Linked DNA regions of Homo sapiens: region 2 is linked to region 1. Evidence: fine-mapped expression QTL. Tissue or cell type: whole blood. Region 1 holds a variant in brackets; the other region holds the start of a gene. All regions are shown on one strand. Distances are from middle to middle.

What was found. PIP is the estimated chance that this variant, and not a neighbour inherited with it, causes the effect.
Region 2: it holds the start of F13A1, and the variant in region 1 is fine-mapped to the expression of F13A1 in whole blood (INTERVAL, PIP 0.99).

What each region holds. Positions count from the first base shown.
Region 1 is chr6:6,144,007-6,152,246 of GRCh38, reverse strand. F13A1 (coagulation factor XIII A chain) reads left to right here. Exons shown (of 15, transcript NM_000129.4): 14 at 298-434; 15 at 6,475-8,163. The coding sequence ends at 6,628. Among named protein-coding and RNA genes, the nearest start is that of MIR5683, 21 kb to the left of the region's middle. The variant A/G (reference allele first, on the strand shown) is at 4,575.
Region 2 is chr6:6,317,627-6,325,626 of GRCh38, reverse strand. F13A1 (coagulation factor XIII A chain) reads left to right here and starts at 4,965. Exons shown (of 15, transcript NM_000129.4): 1 at 4,965-5,040; 2 at 6,945-7,092. The coding sequence starts at 6,963. The region is part of intron 1 of LOC124901253 (a long non-coding RNA gene); the gene reads right to left.

The sequences.
Region 1 (8,240 bases):
CAAATGAACTTCCCCCTCCTGCTGTCAAAGAGCAGTCAGTGGCCACCGCTATTGACCTGAGCTCTAATTAGGCTGGTTTTATAATGAGGAAAAGAGTGCGATTCTAATTAGTAAATTTCCATCTCTTTCTCAATAGGTATCCTCCAGTCAAAGCAATCAGCTATCCTCATCACACTGGTTCCATTGCCAAAAAAATAACTGTATCATAAAACTCTAGTAAAAGTGATGATGGTTAAGACAACAAGAGAGCAGAACGAGGTTTTATTTGGTGCTAATGACCTGCATTCTCTCTCTTAGGTCCGTGGCACTCAGGTAGTTGGTTCTGACATGACTGTGACAGTTGAGTTTACCAATCCTTTAAAAGAAACCCTGCGAAATGTCTGGGTACACCTGGATGGTCCTGGAGTAACAAGACCAATGAAGAAGATGTTCCGGTAAACCTTGGGTTGGGGAGACCGGGCAGGCAGTGCAGGGCTGTGGGAAGCTTTCTCTGTGTGTGTCTTTTCCAAACATAGATCTGCTCCCCAGTGAAAATGTCTTGGAAGCTGCCTCCTCCTTGCCGACCATTTCTGTAGGGCGTGGAGTAAAACTAGGGTTGGTTTGACCAGCACTTTCATCATTTAATCCTTAAAGACACCCTACGATGTAGATACTGCTATTATCTCCCTTCTGTAGCTGAGGAATTTGAGGCTTTGAGAGGTTGACTGGTTACACAGGTTCAGTTACACAGTTTATGAAAACAGAGCCAAGATTCAGACTCAGGCTGGTGAATTCCAGAACCCAAGTTTGAACCACTTTGCTGTACTACCTACTCACGTATGGTCTCTTCTCATCTTTATTGAGCTCCTACCACGTGTCAGATATTATGCTGAGAGATACCCCCTTTTCATGGGTGCTTTGTCTCCAGCCTCACCTCACAGATTTTACCATCCCAATCAGTGTCTACAACTGTTGGATTCAGGTTTTTTTTTAGTTGAGCCTAAAGAGCTCTAGATGGTTCCCCATTCAGGGGACCAAAGACAACCCCAGGTTCTGTAATGATATGAATGAAACTCAGCCTCTTCCACACACAGGCCACTTCAAATTGTGCTTGACAGGTCTCAGTTTCTGTGACTTCTACTAACAAAGAGTGTGACCCAACAAGATAACCCATTCCATGGTCAGGTAGCTCTAACAGTAAGGAAACAGGTTTTTCTACCATTTGATCCTGCCAATGATCCTAATTCTGCCATCTGGACTGACAGAAAGTAAGGCCCATCTCTTTTCCATCTGATGGTTTGCAAATGTTTGCAAACAGCTGTCTCATCTTCCTTGAATCTTTTCTACCTGGGGACAAATATCTGTCCTGACTTTATTTCCCTCTCCTCTAACATGGTTTCAGCTCTCTCTCTCTCTCTCCCACACATTCCAATTTGTCACTACTCCTCTTAAAGTGTGACACCCAGAATGGATCCCAATCTTTGAGGTTTATTACTTTCATTTCTACCACAAATAAGTCCTTGTCAGCATCAATCAATCTAGCACATTTCCTGTGGAGTGACCTTCTAAGGCATAGAAAGGGAGGTAGAGGACTTTGGAAACTGCCTCATGACCAGATATGTCAAGAATTTTCCCGACACCCTTTATGGAAGCGACCCCACTCTGGAATCTGTGGGATAAATGCAAGGCCTCACTTATACCCTCTGGGGCAACTTTATTGCCCATAAAGGGCTCTCCGCATTTCTTTCAAATTACAATGCTCGTAGCTTCTGCATCTCATCATTTAAGAGATGCCTTATTGCAGATGCAATAAACAACAGAGAAAATAATCTTAGTGCTTTTGAAACAACGCAAGCACAAAACATAGCAACCTTCCTGTGCTAACAGGAAAGTTACAGGAAAAAAAAATAAGTAAATTAGTAATCAACCCCAGCTACATAGAGAGGTCAGCAGCCATACCCCTGCTTTCGTCAGAAACGACAGTCTCACTCACCCATTCTCGCACCTTCCCACTCAAATCAGATGCAAGAATCGTTCAGGCAAAGTGAAACACGTTTCCTCTTCCATACAGCCCCCTGCTGTATCCAACTTTTTCCTTCCCAGACAGTAAACCCACAAGCTTTATCTGAGTGTACCGGAAACTTCTCTATCTTTACACCTTGGCTATCCCCCTAGAATTCCACCTTGGTCAAGGCCAACACATGAAAAAAGACACTGTGTGTCTTAGACAAAAGATGAATTATTACACAGTGAATTATTACACAGTGCAATGACCCACTATTTGGGAGGCCTCAGGCTCAAAATAGGTTAAATCTCCAGATGGTTTGTTTATTGTTAATGTCTGACATTGGAGTGGAGCAAAGTGGAGTGAATCGGGAGAAAGGATGGATAAGGCCAGTCCCTTCTTGGACACAGATGTCCTGCCCACACACTGGCTTAAGGTACTGTTAGTAGTTACTGCAACACGTAAGTCTAGGCAGACAAGTAGATAGACAGAGAGCTAGCTGCTCTTAGTCAGTTTGAGCTGCTGTAACAGAAATGCCATAGACTGGGTGGCTTATACAACAAACATTTATATCTCACACTTCTGGAGTCTGGGAAGTCTGAGGACAAGGTGCCGACCAATTCGGTTCCTGATGAGGGCTCCCTTCCCAGCTTGCAGATGGCTGTCTTTTCACTGTGTCCTCACATGGGGCAGAGAGAGGGAGGGCAAGTTCTCTGGCACCTCTTCTTCGAAGGGCACTAATCCCATCATGAGCCCCACCCTCATGACCTATTCTAATTTAGTTACCTCCCCAAAGCTCCATCGCTAAATGGTATCACACTGGAGTTTGGGTTTCAACAAATGAATGTGTGAGGACCACAAACATTTAGTCCGTAACAGTCCTCAATCTCTCTTTTTAAGTTTTTTTTACTGACACATTGTAATTCTACATATTTATGTGGGGCAATTTGATGTTTCGATACATATATATGTTGTATAATGATCAAATCGGAGTATTTAGTGTATCCATCACCCCATGCATTTATCATTTCTTTGTGGTGAGAACATTCAAAAGCCTGTCTTCTAGCTCTTTTGTAATATACAATACCTACTGTTAATCATAGTTACCTTATCATGCAATAGAACACCAGAACTTATTCCTCCTATTTAATTGTCACTTTGTTCTCATTGGCCAACCTCTTCCCATCTTCCCCTTCATGTTCTCCTCCTCAGTCTCTGGTAACCACTGTTCTGCTCTTTGCTTCTATGGTATAATAATTTTTTTTTTTTTAGTGTCTACATGTGAGTGAAATCATGTAGTATTTGTCTTTCCATGTCTGGTTTATTTCACTTACCATGATGCCCTTCCTCCAAGTCTAATTCATGTTGTTACAAATGGCAGGATTTTATTCTTTTTATGGCTGAATAGTTACAGAAACCCAGCTTCAGGGTGGAATATCTCCCAGACAAGAGAAGCTTTATTTCTCAGAGACAGTCAAAACTTGGGCTAAAAATCATGACATAGAAAACATTTGTTATCTAAGATGGGCTTACAACTTGGAGCAAGTGCCACTTTCTCTGTTTACTCCTCACTCCAGCACACACCTTCACAACCAAGACCTGAGCCAGTCCGTGCCCACTTCCATATGGTCAGATAATTAGAAGCACTCCACTGTGCCCTATGTTGCCAAGATCTGATCTAGGAGCGCCAGATCCATGTAACAACTTGGACGCCTAGAAAGTGCAATTCCACAAAACCAAAATCCTTTGCAAGACCGTATTTCTTTCTAGAATACAGCTCTTAAATAGTTGGGGAATCACCACCCCCACTCATTCACCCACACCCTGCCAGATGTGGTGTCTAGAAGGCAGGGGTTATTGAACCCAAAGCAGAGGGCCTGGAAGGTGAGGAGCTGGTAAACAGGGAATTGGAGCCAGGAACAAAGAAGGCGGTGCTGTGTCTCACCCCTCACTCGCAGTGAGCCAACTCTACTCTGAAATGGTTTATCTTCCTGCTCTTCCCCCACTGCCTCCGGCCTGTCTCAGATGTGCAGAGGTTCCACCTCCACAGACTCTTAACTTTCTGCACTTGATGCTTCCAGAGCGTCAAATAATTTATCTTCCAGATTTATTTTGCTCTTTAGAAAATGATCCAGTTCAATATGTTATTTCAAGAGAAAAACTCCCCCACTTTGTGATTTGGGCTTAAACTTTAAGTTTCTCAAATAGGACAGAAGCTAAGGTCTAGAAGCACAGAGGACAAACCATGGGCAGTTGCAGTTTATTGTAATAATAATCTTATTTGCCTGCGTGCATTCAAGATGATAAATGGCCGGTATCTCCTGATGGCTCAGCACGTTACTGAGAATCGTTTATCACAACATCCATCCCCAGAAAATAGGATTACTCCAACATTGCTCCACTTATCAAAATACTTTTTTCTCTGTTATGAATTTATCTGTATGTAAAATAGCATGCATACGTATCTTCATGTATGAGTATTTTCATGTATGAGTTTTTTCGTATGTACACATCATTATGCCGGATGGTTTTATGAGTAAGAGAAAATGATAAGAGGGGGCTAAATACTTAGCTTCTATTTGAGGTGGTT[A/G]TCTACAGTACATGGTCTCAGGTCGGGTCCTTAACCAGGGCCACTGTTTCACAAAGTGCTTCTGATTGATCACTTGGGGGAACCAGAGGAGAGAGAATGAATGGATACAGGTAACAATAGCACAGCTGTTGAGAAATAAATATCCCAAACTTATATTGGTATTGAATTGAGCACTGAGAATTTTCTCTCTGCATACAGGCAGGAGAAACTTTCCTAAATTATCTTGCAAAGAGTTCAATGAATCCTCCATGAACACTTCCAGGACACTCTTATTACTAAGTCAAAAAGTATCTTTCCTGCTTGAGAAATAAAACCTATGAAAAAGTAAGCACAATGGTCAGAAAAAGCCTTTTCTTCTTTTCTTTTTTTATTTCTATAGGTTTTTGGGGAACAGTTGGTGTTTGGTTACATGAATAAGTTCTTTGGTGGTGGTTTCTGAGACATTTGGTCACCCATCACCTAAGCAGTATATACTGTAACCATTTTGTAGTCTTTTATCCCTCCCACCTTTCCCCTGAGTCCCCAAAGACCATTGCGTCATTGTTCATTGTTATGCCTTTGCATCCTCATAGCTTAGCTCCAGCTTATGAGTGAGAACATAGGATGTTTGGTTTTCCATTCCTGAGTTACTTCACTTAGAATACTGGTCTCCAGTTTCATCTAGGTCACTGTGAATTCCATTGTTTCATTCCTTTTTATGGCTGAGTAGTATTCCATGGTATATGCATACCACAATTTCTTTATTCACTCATTGATGGGCATTTGGGCTGGTTCCATATTTTTGCAATTGCACACTGTGCTGCTATAAATATGTGTGTGCAAATATCTTAGAAAAAGCCTTTTCTTATAGAACATATGGTGTACACTTTTATGAAGTGCAGTGAAGAGGAGCAGAAAGAGTATGAATATGGGACTCAGAAAAACCCGGGTTCAAATTTCATCTCTGCCCATTTACCAATTATGTGATCTTGAAAAAGGGACTTCACTGGTTACCTTCCATTTTTCTTGATCATAAAATCTGCTGAATAGTATCTGCCTCAAAGAACTGTCATACATATAAAACCTGAATATAATCTCCCAAGGTTTATAGGGGAGGCTATATGTGAAGCACCCCAGAGAACACTAAATCTCACCAACCCTGATTAGTCTCAGTCTGCACTGATGTGGGCTTGTTCGTGACACTCAGGAAGACTTCAGGGCAAAGGCTGGGAGGAAGAGGAGAACACTAGAACCATGAAAGGCTATGTCATTAGCCGCATACATTAGGGCATTGGCAACAAATGGTAGCAGAAAGTTGCATAGGTGGAGGGGCCCAATTTGGTGGTTGAAATAGGAATTTGAATTACAGAACATGAAGATTCTCAAAGTCAAATGGCAGCAGGCAGGGCTATATTCCAGATGCTGAGCCTGGGAACAAGGTCTATCCCAAGGGAGTTGGCAAAAGCTAATTCGAGTGTCAGGGCCTCAGCAAAGGCAGCTGGGGGATTCATATAGGACTGTAATTCCAGGAGGAAACTAGTGGCAAAAACTGAGCTGAGGCTCAGAAGATCAGTCACATAGATAAGGCTACTATGGAGGGCTTGGAGACAAGCTAGAGTTCAGTTGATTAATGGTTGGATGGGAATCAGCCCAGCTCCTGATGGCCACTGGGAGGCTGGCGGATGCATCCCAGTGGAAGGAACCATGACCCAATAAGACTGTCAGTGACAGGTTCTGCAGAGCTTTATGTGGGGGCCTCATTTGGGGCATAACTTGCTGAATCAGCCAGTGAGAGTCTTCAGTGTCCTAAGCACCAACTGAGAGAAAGAAAGCAAGTGACTTAGGCAAGAGTTTTCATTGCTTCCTGATCAAAGTGGAAAGCTGGATCTTCCAACCTCTCCTCTCTTTTCCATCCTTTCAGTGAAATCCGGCCCAACTCCACCGTGCAGTGGGAAGAAGTGTGCCGGCCCTGGGTCTCTGGGCATCGGAAGCTGATAGCCAGCATGAGCAGTGACTCCCTGAGACATGTGTATGGCGAGCTGGACGTGCAGATTCAAAGACGACCTTCCATGTGAATGCACAGGAAGCTGAGATGAACCCTGGCATTTGGCCTCTTGTAGTCTTGGCTAAGGAAATTCTAACGCAAAAATAGCTCTTGCTTTGACTTAGGTGTGAAGACCCAGACAGGACTGCAGAGGGCTCCAGAGTGGAGATCCCACATATTTCAAAAACATGCTTTTCCAAACCCAGGCTATTCGGCAAGGAAGTTAGTTTTTAATCTCTCCACCTTCCAAAGAGTGCTAAGCATTAGCTTTAATTAAGCTCTCATAGCTCATAAGAGTAACAGTCATCATTTATCATCACAAATGGCTACATCTCCAAATATCAGTGGGCTCTCTTACCAGGGAGATTTGCTCAATACCTGGCCTCATTTAAAACAAGACTTCAGATTCCCCACTCAGCCTTTTGGGAATAATAGCACATGATTTGGGCTCTAGAATTCCAGTCCCCTTTCTCGGGGTCAGGTTCTACCCTCCATGTGAGAATATTTTTCCCAGGACTAGAGCACAACATAATTTTTATTTTTGGCAAAGCCAGAAAAAGATCTTTCATTTTGCACCTGCAGCCAAGCAAATGCCTGCCAAATTTTAGATTTACCTTGTTAGAAGAGGTGGCCCCATATTAACAAATTGCATTTGTGGGAAACTTAACCACCTACAAGGAGATAAGAAAGCAGGTGCAACACTCAAGTCTATTGAATAATGTAGTTTTGTGATGCATTTTATAGAATGTGTCACACTGTGGCCTGATCAGCAGGAGCCAATATCCCTTACTTTAACCCTTTCTGGGATGCAATACTAGGAAGTAAAGTGAAGAATTTATCTCTTTAGTTAGTGATTATATTTCACCCATCTCTCAGGAATCATCTCCTTTGCAGAATGATGCAGGTTCAGGTCCCCTTTCAGAGATATAATAAGCCCAACAAGTTGAAGAAGCTGGCGGATCTAGTGACCAGATATATAGAAGGACTGCAGCCACTGATTCTCTCTTGTCCTTCACATCACCCATGTTGAGACCTCAGCTTGGCACTCAGGTGCTGAAGGGTAATATGGACTCAGCCTTGCAAATAGCCAGTGCTAGTTCTGACCCAACCACAGAGGATGCTGACATCATTTGTATTATGTTCCAAGGCTACTACAGAGAAGGCTGCCTGCTATGTATTTGCAAGGCTGATTTATGGTCAGAATTTCCCTCTGATATGTCTAGGGTGTGATTTAGGTCAGTAGACTGTGATTCTTAGCAAAAAATGAACAGTGATAAGTATACTGGGGGCAAAATCAGAATGGAATGCTCTGGTCTATATAACCACATTTCTAAGCCTTTGAGACTGTTCCTGAGCCTTCAGCACTAACCTATGAGGGTGAGCTGGTCCCCTCTATATATACATCATACTTAACTTTACTAAGTAATCTCACAGCATTTGCCAAGTCTCCCAATATCCAATTTTAAAATGAAATGCATTTTGCTAGACAGTTAAACTGGCTTAACTTAGTATATTATTATTAATTACAATGTAATAGAAGCTTAAAATAAAGTTAAACTGATTATATTTGCATCTGTGCAGAAGTGAATGCTTTTAATTTTCAATATAACACACTACTAATCACAACTTCTTGAGAAACCATC
Region 2 (8,000 bases), 170 kb before region 1:
GGAATTACATCTATAACCAACAAAATCCAGGTCTTGTTCAGCTGGAAAAAACCAGCAGCGTCCAGACATGACTGGGTTTTTTGTTTGTTTGTTTGAGATGTGAAGTTTTGCATGTAAATCAAATAGAGTTTGCCAGAAAATTCATTGCCTGAACAAATATGGTCTGCTCCTTGGGTATTGCCAAGTAGGAGAAAGATGGTTTGTCTGGAGAGACTGCAGAGAAAAGTGTCAATACCATAGAAATGAAAACTCAGAATTAAAGGATCAAGGTAAGGGGATCCGGAATCCCTCCTCCCACGTATTTTCTGTTTACTCACAACTCCCAAAGTTTACTACATATTTCTGAGAGACGCCAGGATCCCAGAGTGATGTGTTTAGGAATTTTTACCCTGCTTCTTGGGGAGGCAATGGGGTGAGCCCTTCAGCTTCAGAAGAGTGAGAAGGTATGCCCAGGCCCGTGCAGCCAGAGGGAGTTCACGTCTCCTTGGAGGTCTCATGCTGAGCTGGTAAGGCCAAGAAAGTAGGGGCAGAACTGGATTACCCTTGTGACGTTCTCATTGGAGTCTCCTCGTGCTCCAGGCCTATTGACATCTCATGTGAGGGACTGGCCATGCCATGATGAAAGAGCACAGTGTGTTGTGGCAGTCCTGGAACTGTTTGCCCAGAGAGCCTTTCCTCACCCTTTCCCTGTATGGATGCAGTAAAGAGTTAACATAGCAAACCTGAAACTGGCTTAGAAAGCCCTACTTGCAAGCTTGGCCCTTGTCTGGCATCTGGGAACTTGGACTTCAGGAGTCTTCCCACTGTTCCCTAACTGACAAGTGGGGCTGGCTGGGCCTAAACTGTACAAAAATTGTGGCTCATGCTTAACACCTGCTTCCTTCAGGGAGTCTGGAAAATGGCTATGAGCTAGGTAGAGGGTACCTATGTGACCAGCCCCCCATAAACACCCTGAGCACTGAGCCTCTGGTGAGCATCCCTGGCAGATGACATTATATCAGTGTTGTCACAACTCATTGCCAGGGTTGGTAGGCACAGCCCATGTGCCTTGATTAGGACAGGACCTTTGGGAACTTCTGCCTGGTCCTCCAGACTTTGCCCAAGTGCCTTTTCTCTGCTGATTTGGATTTGTATCTTTTCGTCATGATTTATCGTGTAGTATATATGATATATGTACATTTGTATCTGATCATAGCTACGTGGGTGGCCGAGTCTGGTGAGTCCTCCTAGTGAATCACAGAACCTGGGGGTAGCCTTGGGGCCCCAGCACAGGAGTGGTGGGGCTAACTTTGCAGGCGGTATTTTCCAGAGTCCTTTGTCAACTGATTCTAGTGGAGTTCAGCAAAACGGCAGACAAGGGAGGGAGAGGGAGCGGGAAGAAAGGGACAAGCTAGGATCATTCTTCCCTCCCTCTTGACCTCAGACAGTGTTTCTTGGAATTATGGGATCTAAAGCTCCCACCAGACAGGACCACACGGTTCCAGTGCCTGACCTACCCTCAGTCCTCCCGCTACAACGACACCAACTCCTCTCTGCTGTTGCTAATTGTGGAGTTGATTCACCTTCTCGTGTTTGGTTTCTTGTCTCTTCTCTCACCTGTGTAACCAATCCCCTGCCTTAAATTCCTTCTTTTAGAAAGACCTAAAGTGGTTTTTGTTTTCCTGGATGAACCCCGTCTGTTACATGCCTTAAATATTTACATGGCTCCACTTCCATGCCAGGCAGGGGGCATTCAGAAATAAAAGACACCATCCCATCCTTAAGGACCTCAGAGCCTATGCACCTGTGGAAGTTGCATCCCTAGCACAGTTCAAGATTCACTGTGTGACCAGAAACCTTTGTTCTGATGTCTCAGCCATATAACCATGAGGAATACCCTGTAAAATGAATGGGCTTCAACCGCATTCTAGGGCTTGGTGGCTTAGACACATTTTTATCGACTTTGTTTAGCACAAGGAAAGCCATTGCATTTATGATGCTCTTGAGGTTAGTGGTTTGGGGGAGTCAGAAAGCCAACCACTGTGTGTGTATGTTCACAAAGCCAATAATTAGTCTAAGGCCAAAAGTGACACCGTGGAGGTGGTTGTGAGGGTGACAATCCTGTTCTGAATGCACAACTCAACCCCAAGTCCCAGGGGTACCTGGCATCTGCGTAACCTCATCTGAAGGGTGCAAGGGTGGCTGCTCATCCTCCAACCCCACATGGATGAGGGTATCTTGGAATTCTAGACACTCAGATTTGATGTTTGCCAGGAGAACTACCAGAATATGATCGTTAAGGATTGGGGGAGGGTTTAAAAATACTGAGGAGACCTGAAATTGTATGAATGCTGAGGGGAAGCAGTGCTAGACATCTTTAGGGTCTTTCTCTAGCACTCAGCAAGGGATGTGGCAAAGACGGCCTTTGGATAGTTAAGTGGTCAGCAGCCTCTCTCCAGGGAACTCTGGCTGGAGTCCCTACCTTTTTGTACTCTAGTGCAGGTACAGCCAAGGAAACAGAAAATGATCATGCAGTGTGAGGAGCACTACAACAAGGCAAACTCCTTGCAAGACAACTGGGGAGTCAGTGGAGGGAGACTGGGCAGGGAAGAAAGATGGCAGAGGAAGATGATAGGGAAGAAAGATGGAAGCCAAATGGCAGAAGCTTAGTGATGAAGAGGAGGAGAGGAGAAACAACAGTGGAAGGCAGGGAGGGTAGATTGGTGTTGGGGGAAGGTTTTTTAAAAATACTGGAGACCTCAAATTGTATGGATGCTGAGGGAAAGAGCAGTGCTAGAGGCAGGGTCCAGCTTGTATAGGCCTTGTCAGTTTCAGCTTGCAATTTATCCAAAAAGCAAAGAGAAGTAGCCATATAAGGGCTTTGTGCAAATAATTTGATTTCGGATTTTAGCCCTGAAATGCTCATTCTGACTGCACTGTAGAGAATGGACTGGAAAGGGGTACATACACGGGTAGATTCAAGGGCTGTTTAAGAGGTAGGATAGAAAATATTTGCTCAAGGATCGGATTTGATGATTGAGGGAGAGAAACAAGGAAGCCTCAAGAATGATGCCCATGTGTCTGGTGTACCACCTGCGTGCAAAGTGATGGTATTCATTGAGGTAGGGAACTCCTGAGATGCACCAGGTTTTCCAGGAAAGTGATACATCTCATGTTAGACATGATGAGCGTGTGTTGTCACTGGGATGTGACAAATGAGGATAGCCAGTAGGCACTTAGATACGGGAATCTGCAATTCTGGAAAAGATCTTGGCTAAAGACCCAGATTTGGGAGGTGTCAGGATATAGATGGAATTTGAAAACTATGGGAGTTCCTCAGACAATCAAGGAATATTGCGCTGCACTGGAGGAAACCACAGAGTGTTCAATGTCAAGGAGGCCTAGGAAAAATACCTTCAAAGACAGAGTTCAATGCTTCCAAAAGGTCAGGTAAATAAGAACTGAATCCTGTCTTTTGGCCTGAGCACAGGCCTTGGAGACCGTGACCTCCACTTTCAGTAGAATGATGAGGCGGAAGCCAGATGGCAGATACTTAGTGATGAAGGGGAGGAGAGGAGGAGTAACAGCAGGAGTGGGGACATAGGTTGGGGGAGGTTTTTAAAAAAATACTGAAGAGACCTGAAATTGCATGAATGCTGAGAAGACCCACTATTAGCAAGCAGGAGCTTGAAGCTGCAAGAGGAAGAGTACGTAAGAGTCACAGCAAAGCCCCGGAGAACAAGGCAACGCAGAAGCCTGGTTTGGAGATGCAGAGGGAGGAGGGACCTTTCCAACTTCAGTAACAAGAAGAAAGAGGAAAAGATAGATAAGGTTGCAGGCAGGTTCATAGATTGGTAGCAGAAAATTGAGAGAATTTCTAACCAATGGCATCTTTTTTTTTCTTCTTTATAACATTGGGAGATTGAGTGGCAGGGTCAGAAATTTGAAGACAGTAAAGAAGGTTAGAAATAGCCATGTTTGACTGGGTGCGGTGGCTCACGCCTGTAATCCCAACACTTTGGGAAGCCAAGGAGGGTGGATCACCTGAGGTCAGAAGTTCGAGACCAGCCTGGCCAACATGGTAAAGCCCCATCTCTACTAAAAATACAAAAATTAGGCGGGCATGGTGGCATGCACCTGTAGTTCCAGCTACTTGGGAGGCTGAGGCAGAAGAATCACTTGAACCCGGGAGGTGGAGGTTGCACTCCAGCCTTTGCAACAGAGCAAGACTTCATCTGAAAGATAGAAAGATGAAAGAAAGAAAGAAAGAAAGAGTAAAAGAAAAAAATTAAAATTTTAGGGGGAAAATTTTCTAATTTTTGAACATGCACTAAAATGATTTTCAGAGAAAACCAAGTGTTATTTTCTAATCTGCATGGCATTATTAAAGATGTTTACTCATCTTCCTTGGGGCTAGGCATCCCATTCCTGCAGGAAGTCTTGTGGTTAGGCGGTGGCTGTGGCTCTGGGATGATTCAGGAATGCAGACCATGCCTTATTTGCACAGGAGGGACACGTTGCTCTCACTGCATGCATGGTCACAACTGTCTGTGTGACCTGTCTGTGGGAGGGCAGACCCCCCTCCTGCCAAGCCACAGTAGCAGCTGACCTGCCAGGCAAAAGCATTCCTTTGTAAAGGAAACCCTCCCAGACCCTCTGACCAAAGGGGACGGGTGGGGACTTCCTGGCACTGCAGGGCCCCTTGCCTGGTACTCCCAGCAACTGGTTGCGGTGGGGAGGGCAGATCTAGGGATGGGGATGGGGAGGAGAAGTGGGAATGGGAAATTGGGAGTCAGAGGGGCAAGTGGGAGAGAAGGGCGCACCTGCCGGGATAACAGGCCAGATGAAGTAAATAGAAAATCCTCTGAGCTCCCCTACTGGCTCCAGCTGTGGAGAAGGGGGAGGAGAAAACCCTGTGGGACAGGGGAGGAGGGTGAGGGCTCCTCTTAGGAAGTTATTTAAGAGCCAACTGTCTTGTCTTTCCCGAGTCCGTTTGAGGAAGTCCCCGAGGCGCACAGAGCAAGCCCACGCGAGGGCACCTCTGGAGGGGAGCGCCTGCAGGTAAGCCACCGACCCTGCACCCTATGAGCCAGGGCCCGCTGCGTCCACCTTCTGCACCTCGGTTTCCTGGTTGAACCAGCAAGCGGCTTGCTCTGGGCCCTGTGGCGCCGGTCACAGGCAGCTCCACTTGCCCAATCCTGGCTTCCCGCCCCCAACTCCGCACCTGCCCAGCCCAGCTTCTAAGCGGGACTTCTCTCAGGCTCTCGAGGCAGCTCTCCCGAAGCCGTTGCTTGCTTAGAATGCCACCAAATGGGGATGGGGGAGTTGGAGGTGCTTCCCCAAGGGACGAGCCCCCTTTCCTCAGGGAGCAGATTATGGAGCTGGAACACAAAAGGTGGAGGGAGTGGGGCCAAGTGAGAACAGCCTGCTAGACTGGAACCCCGCCGGCTTGGCTCCCCACTCCTGCGCGCCTCCCCACTCCTGCGCATCGCCTGCCTCCGTCCCAATTTGGAGCTGAACTCGAGCCACTTCTCCTCCTTAGACCCGCCCAGAAGCGAGGGCTCCTGCCCGCCGCACTCACCCAGCCAGGCGTGCACCTGGGGCTCCCCCCTTCTCCCCCTTAGCACTGTGTCTCCCGACAGCGCGCCACACTGTTCTGCACCCCTGGCAATGCCGCAGCCTACCTTCGGTATTTCTCACTAGAGGATGGCTCTCGCAGCCTTCTCCCTATCATTAACCCTTTTTCGCTCTTCTCCCTCCCTTCCCCCGTCAGCTCACCAATGACTGTAAATATATTTATCTATACTTATGGATACCCATTCACACCTTATGCATCCAAACACTCCTGTCTCCTTCTCAGACCAGACACCTTAGGCGTGGTTGTCTTTTCTCCAGCATGTTGTTAGTGCTCCACATGTCTCTGGAACCATCTCTCTACTCTGGTGGCCTCTATAATGGGGACTCTTCACCTCTTGGGGGTGTGCCTGGTTTTTGAAAATAGCCAAGTCTCCAGGAGTCATGACTGGGTAATCCAGGGGATCAAGGGGGAACCTTCACTGGGCCCAGAAACAAAGTCCCCCTTCATTTGGTCATTTGGTCAACAAGTACTTACTGGGCACTGACCGTCAGGTGTGTGTTGTTTAAACTGGCTCAGTGCCTGCACAAGCTCCAAGGGAAGGGGAAGCAGGCTTGGGGAATGGGAAATGTTGGCAACCCTGACTTCTTAAGCCTATTGATAGCCCTATTGAAAATTGCATGCCCAACCTCTCCACCTCCTTATCCTCCTCCATGTGGCTCAATTTCCAAAGCAGTTCCTACCTCCTCACCCCTAAGTGGATTTACTTATGGCTCTTCTTGGGCTCCACCCTAACCCTATCAGACTATAATCTATCAGAGCAAACATTCTGTTTTGTTCTCTGATGTATCCCATGTACCTAGATCACAGCCTGGCATGTCATAGGCCCTCAATAAATATTGGTTGAATTAAATTGCAAATGTAAACGCTTTAGAAGACAACATTTGTCTGGACATGGTTGTGTGCGTTTATTCTTAAAAGTGACTTATAATCTCATAAATCTGTATGAAATGAACATAGATACAGCACATGCATATAACAGGAAACATTTCTTGCGAAGATGCTGCTGTAGGATTATGGAGGGTGGGGGAATCTGGGTCTCCAAAAATCTTTTAATTTTTAAATTTCTTTGAATAAGCCCCTTTTCTTCTGCTTTCCATATGTTTTGACACATACAAAAATCTCCCCAAGATCCTTGGGGAACTGTATTCCATCATTAGACTAATCCTTGCTGCCACTTCTCAGTTTTTATTTATGCAAACGGCAAAATGTGTTGCTCAAGTGCTATCACACACAGATATATCTGTTTCTCTATTTTGGAATCCTTGTCTCAAATGTTACTCACTTTACATGCCTTTTCTGTTGTCTTCTTTTTTTTTTTTTTCTGAAGGACCTTGTAAAGTCAAAAATGTCAGAAACTTCCAGGACCGCCTTTGGAGGCAGAAGAGCAGTTCCACCCAATAACTCTAATGCAGCGGAAGATGACCTGCCCACAGTGGAGCTTCAGGGCGTGGTGCCCCGGGGCGTCAACCTGCAAGGTATGAGCATACCCCCCTTCCCCACCACTCTGGGTCCAGGCACAGCCGGGCCCTGGCCCCTCTTCCCTGCAGGTAAACATCCTCTGTCTCCACTGGGGTTCCCACAAAAGGAAGCCCCCTGCCAATCTCTGGTTTTATAAAGGAAGAAAGCAAAAGCTTTCTTTTAAGTGGTGAAAGCACCGAAGACCCAGAGCCTTGTCCCAGTTCTGCCCCTTACTGACCTTGTAACCTCAGAGAAGTTGCTTTGTCTTTCTGCCTCTCAACTATTTCCTCTACAAAACCAGAGTGCTGGATTAGCTAGGGCCTCTTCCAGCCCTACTGCTCAATGCTTTAGAGAATTTTCTCTAGCTGGAATATTCCACTTCCAAAATATTGTGGCTGTTTTGATTGTCTGGCTTGCACCTCCTTCCTTCTCCCTCCTCCCTCCTCCATCCATTGCTGTGAATTTCAGAGCCGGGGAGAAGTGCCAGACTCTGACAGTAATAGAGATAGAAGCCCTCTATTTCTCTCCAGAGCAGCCTGGTGAGCTGGCAAGGCAAGCTGCTTCCCCAGCCTCTTGCCTCTGCCTGATCCCTAGAAACCTGTTCCGGGTACAGCAGCCGGCAGCTGACCTCCTCTCAGCCCTGTCAGTGGTGACAAGGTCCAGGTGCCAGCACTGGTTTGGTGATACAGACATCATTCCCCTGGGCCATGGCAGGGACATTCAGACTCATGTCCCCGAGTGGCATTGAGCAGGGAGTCTTTTTTGTCAATAACATTCATGCACCAAAATCTAATTTTACTCCTAAGGGTGTTCTGTGCTGGGTTTCACTGGGGATAAACACCTATTTGCTGGGATAGGTGAGCATGGTCATGCTGGAGCTGTGTGGTCGATTCCCCTCATTAGAAGGAGACCAATGCCTGAAAGC